Linked DNA regions of Homo sapiens: region 2 is linked to region 1. The links come from fine-mapping of genetic effects on gene expression. Tissue or cell type: whole blood. Region 1 holds a variant in brackets; the other region holds the start of a gene. All regions are shown on one strand. Distances are between the middles of the regions.

Region 1 (2,760 bases):
ATGATATGTAATTTGTTTGTTTCAACTGAAGCACATGCTTTGAGATTGTGAGTGGCAGCAAGCATTACCTAGGAAATGCCTCTCTCACATGGGCCAGCAACAACATATCAATGTAGCTTTATCCATAGAGATACTTATTGTAACAGAATTCTATCCATAGAATAATTATTGTAACATAAGTAGAAACTATCTTGTAACATAAATAGAAACTATCATTAATTATCCAAAGAGAAAAAAATCCCTTAAATGTTTTAGATATTCTATTGTAAGGCTGGGTGTGGTGCCTCATGCCTGTAACCCCAGCACTTTGGAATGCCAAGGTGGGAGAATCACTTGAGCCCAGGAGTTCAACACCAGCCTGGGCAAAATGGTGAAGTCTCCTTTCCGCAAAAAAAATTCAAAAATTAGCCAGGCATGACTGCGCATACCAGTAGTCCCAGGTACCAGGGAGGCTGAGGTGGGAGGATTGCTTGACCCCAGAAAGCAGAGGTTGCAGTGAGCTGAGACTGCACCACTGCACTCTAGCTTGGGCAACAGACAAGACTGAGAAAAAAGAAAGAAAAGAAAAAAAAAGAAAAGAAAAGAAAAAAGAAGGAAGGAAGGACGGAAGGAAAGAAAGGAGGGAGGGAGGGAAGGAAGGAAAATAAAAAGAAAATTAAAAATAAAAAGATATGCTACTATATTTTAAAAAGAAAATTGGACACCATAATGATAATTGTGAGTTTATGGATTACAAAGTACTCAAGATATGTCCCAGAATGATAATGGCTCATTATAGTCGTTACAGATTAAATCAGATCCTATAAAACACAAGAAGGAAAAAATGCCACTGTCATATTCTCCCAAGTTTAGTAATAATATTCACACACTGTTAATATATTACTTTCCCTGAATGGCCAAATACCTAACCATTTAGAACATAGGTTTTCAAATTTTAACATGCCTCAGAATCACCTGAAAGGATTAGTAAAGTACCATTTGCTGAGCCCTACTTCCAGAGTTTCTTATTCAGTCAGTAGGTCTAGGGTGAGAACCAAGAATTTGCAATTCTAACCAAGTTCACAGGTGACTAGTGCTGAGGTCCAAGAACCACATCTTGAGAATCTCTCTTTTTGAAGATTACAGCCAGGTTGTTTCACCATTAATCTTTAAATGGGTTAACAAAAAAAGATATAAATAAACTAAAAGAATAATAAATACAGCCAAGTTGCTCCAAATTCACACAACTGTAGGGGCCTTCACACCCACTATTTAAATAATCCTTCACTTCCTTATGATCAGATGGCAAAAAATACACATTATGATTAATAATTAAGACCAAAATAGCCGTGATATATTCAAAGAGATGTTATTTTGAAATAAAATTACTACATTCGAATTACTATTAGGAAAATATGTAGGGTTTTTTTTACTCAAACTAAAACTCTTATA[C/T]ATATTTATTTTATAGACCTTACCATCATTATAATTGAATAATAATTAATTGTGTGTTTAATGTCTCTTTTCCCCTACTTGTCCATAAGGGTATTGACTGTCCTCTATAGCTTACTGTTGTATCCCTATTGCATAGCACAATGTCCAACACATAACTGGTATTTTTAAAAGAAGTGTTGATAAATGAATAAAAATTTATTAAAAGTCTATTATAATTATTAAAGGTCCACATTATGGGGATATAAAAAGGGGCAGAAGTATATTCGATTTACCATAAGGCAATGTGATAAATGCTTTTTAGTAATATGAAAAAAATGCTATGAGATACAATGAAAGGGCTAGTTAAAGCTGCCAGCAAGTAGGAATGTGTTAGAAGGCTTCAACAAAGAGATGATAAATCCCAATATGTAATACATCTGCTGTATCACCCCTATTGCTAGTAATCTCCAAAATCCACAAGGTTCTCTGTTAAGATTTATGGAAATGAAATGTACTCTATTCTAACACAAAGTCTAACATGTAAGGTTTAACTGCCTCCATTAAACAAGATAAGCCCTTTTCTAAGATTTTGCCACTGGTAGAGTTTTTTTAAAGTATCATTTACCGCTTGTTCTCCTCTAATTTCCCTCTAATTCCTCTCCAAAAAATTCCCCCTCACACACTGGGAAGAAATATAAGGCAATAAGTTAGATAAACAAGACTAATATGATTTTAGAAGGGGTTGAAATCTGTGAAATATATCTATAGTTATTTCCATACTTTATAAGTAATGACTAAAGAATAACACATAATTTTCAATAAGTTACAAAAAACATTTGTGTTACATATCTAAAATTTAACTAACCCATAATATTATTTATTTAAAGTCTTCAAAAACAATTATGGTGGTAATATAGTTGTTTAAAAATTAAAAGTCAATTTAGAAGTACAAAAATAATTTTTAAAAATGATTCAAGGCCGGGCACGGTGGTGCATGCCTGTAATCCCAGCACTTTCGGAAGCCAAGGCCAGCAGATCACAAGGTCAGGAGTTCGAGACCAGTCTGACCAACATGGTTAAAGCCCGTCTCTACCAAAAATAAAAAAATTAGCCAGGAGTGGTGGTGCATGCCTGTAATCCCAGCTACTCGGGAGGCTGAGGCAGGAGAATCGCTTGAACCAGGAGGCAGAAGTTGCAGTGAGCCGATATCGCACCACTGCACTCCAGCCTGGGCAACAGAGTGAGACTCTGTCTCAAAAAAAAAAAAAAAAAAAAAAGATAAATCTTGCTTCTTTATCACCTAACTGAAGAACTGAAGAATAAATAACCTAATAAAAGTGCCTTGAAAAT
Region 2 (2,619 bases), 220 kb after region 1:
ATTGCCCTGCTGCCGTCCCCACACCTCTTCTCCTTCCTAGCTGCTCTTGATGGGTTCTGCAATCTGATTTCACCTGGATACCACACTAAGGGTGAGAAGGGGCAGAACTTCAGGGGTGGAGGAAAGTGAGGGAAGGGAAATGCTGGAGACCTTCCATAGAAATCCAGCCAAGTCCTCAGCTCCTTTCAATCATCCTACTCTATCTGGCTGCTCCATCCAGCAGACAGCAGGGGTCACCATCCTGGTGGGGAATGGCTGCCAACAAGGGGACGGGAAGCTGGATGGCAGTTTGCATCCACCCCACCTTCCAGGGTCTATCTGTCTGAAGCCCCACCGGGCTTCCTCTGCACATCCCTGCCGGGCTGTGTGGCTCAGGGGGCTGACAGGGTGATTCATAGCCTGTTCTTATCTAGGCTTCTATCTCAACCCTGCGCCCAAAGCCCTGGAGGCTGCTGGTCACAAACCAGCACTAAATGAAAAGAAGAACTTTTCATTAAGGCAGGAAGTGGAGCCCCTCAAGGTCAAAGGGGATTTATAAAGAGAGGAGGAAAGAAAGGGAAGACGCGGCAGGATGGGTGCAGAGAAAGAGAGACCCACTTCCTATATGCTGGTGGAGCCCTGTGTCTTAGACGCTAAAAACAGTCGCTTTTCCACTTCAAAGGATGATAAAGCCCACTCGTGTAGTTTATAGCTCGCCGTGGGACGAGGTGTGGGTATGGAAGAGAATTCCAAAACACGTCTTATTTTCAAAGGAGAAATCATCATCCCCTGGCCGGCCCTTCCCAACACCCCACCTGTAAACAGGTGCTGACGCTCCTACCTTTCTGCACCTGAGCAATCTGGGGGCAGTTACTCTGCAGCCAGGTCTCCCCAGCACCCAGCCCCAAGCCCAGGTCAGTCCCTGAAAGCCCTAGAAAACGCGATAGCTCAGCAGAACCCTCGCCTACCCGGGCATCCCAGCTTCCTGGCCGCCTGGGCAGCGGAGGTGGCTCTGGAGTAGGTGGGAAACTGAGGAAAGGAGCTTTCCCCGTGCCAAAACGCAGTTCCCATTTTAGAACTGGTTAGACTAAGGAACAACATTCTACACCACCTCCCTCACTTAACAGAGGAGGAAGCAGAGACCAAGAGAGGGAAACAAAGTTGCCCGAGGTAACACAGCGAGTGGGCCAAGTAGAGACTGGAACCCGAGTGCGCACCTCCGAGTCGCTGCCGGGCAGGGAGCGCGCCTCGCCGTCTCTCTTGTCTTCTGGCCCCCAGCCCTCGGCCTGGCGGTGCAAACCGCGCAGCCCCGGGCGCGGCGCGTTACCTTCCCCCGGGCAAGGCGTTGCGAGCCTTCACTCTCCCGACGGACGCTGGCGGCACGGCCCGGGTGTCGCCCGGCACTGTCAACGCAGAGCGGCGTGCGCGAGTCCCTCCCCGCTACCCCCGCCCCCGGCGGGCGGTGCGGTGGGGCCGGTCCCGGGTGCTCGGGCCAATGGCGCTTCGCCCGCTCCCCGCCCCGGCCCGCCCCGGCCTCCTCGCCCGGCACACAGCGCCTGCCAGCCCCTGCCCTCTCCCCTTCCCTCCCTTCGCCCTCCGCCCCCGCCTGCTGCTTCTCTCCGGTTCCTAGCCTCCTTCTCAAGTGTACCTTGCCCCGAAACAACCTGTTTTCTGTGCAAATAAAGCAGCACTGTTGTTATTGTTATTATTATTTTTATCACGGCGCGTTAGGGGGCCTTGGAGCCCGAGAGTGTGGAGCACTAGGAGCCTCTGCACTCCGAGAAGGGACAGCCACCGCGCAGGGAAAGGGGCGCGGAGGGTATGGAGCCCGGTCATGGGGTAACTTGCTTTAACCCTCGGGACGTCAATTTCCTCACATGTGAAATAGAAGAAGGGGGGAAAAAAGTTGTTGAGAGGACTAAATGAAGTGATGCTTTAAAATACAATAATACCTAGAGAAAGGTGAGGGCGTCATGCACTGCCTGAGCTACTTACTGGGGTATGCACAGAGGACTGGTAAGCTCCTGGAAGACGCTGTGTGGCAGGGAGGCAGACAATGCAATACAGTAAATACAATATTGTGGTCGGGCGCGGTGGCTCACACCTGTAATCCCAGCATTATGGGAGGCCGAGGCAGGTGGATAACCCGAGGTCAGGAGTTCGGGACCAGCCCGGCCAACATAGCAAAACTCTGTTCTAATTAGAAAAGAAAAAAGAAAAATTAGCTGGGTGTGGTGGCGAGCGCCCGTAGTCCCAACTACTTAGGAAGCTGAGGCAGGAGAATCGCTTTAACCCGAGAGGTGGAGGCTGCCGTGAGCCAAGATCGCACCACTGCACCCCATCCTGGGTGACAGAGCAAGACTCTGTCTCAAAAAAATAAATAAAATAATTTAAAAATTGTATCACGACCTATTTTTTACAAGTTACCCATGATGGGGCCAGCCCAGGCAAACCTCTGAAGGAGATGAACCTTAAAGCCTTTTTCCTTATCATTTCCTGGACTAGTGTTGTCCATTTAACTGAGGGTGGCCCAGGTCTGCCTTTGGTTCTTCCAAAGGTCTTCCTTCTCCCAAACTTACAAATACTTATCCCCAAGGGCTTCAGTTAGTGCCCAGTGCAGGCTGCTAGCCTGGCCCAAGA

The links. PIP is the estimated chance that this variant, and not a neighbour inherited with it, causes the effect.
Region 2: SYTL2 starts here. The variant in region 1 is fine-mapped to the expression of SYTL2 in whole blood (INTERVAL, PIP 0.95).

What each region holds. Positions count from the first base shown.
Region 1 is chr11:85,592,400-85,595,159 of GRCh38, forward strand. The region is part of intron 3 of DLG2 (discs large MAGUK scaffold protein 2); the gene reads right to left. Among named protein-coding and RNA genes, the nearest start is that of DLG2, 34 kb to the right of the region's middle. The variant C/T (reference allele first, on the strand shown) is at 1,432.
Region 2 is chr11:85,809,758-85,812,376 of GRCh38, forward strand. SYTL2 (synaptotagmin like 2) reads right to left here and starts at 1,384. Exons shown (of 20, transcript NM_206927.4): 1 at 1,197-1,384. RefSeq lists a silencer at 1,343-1,522.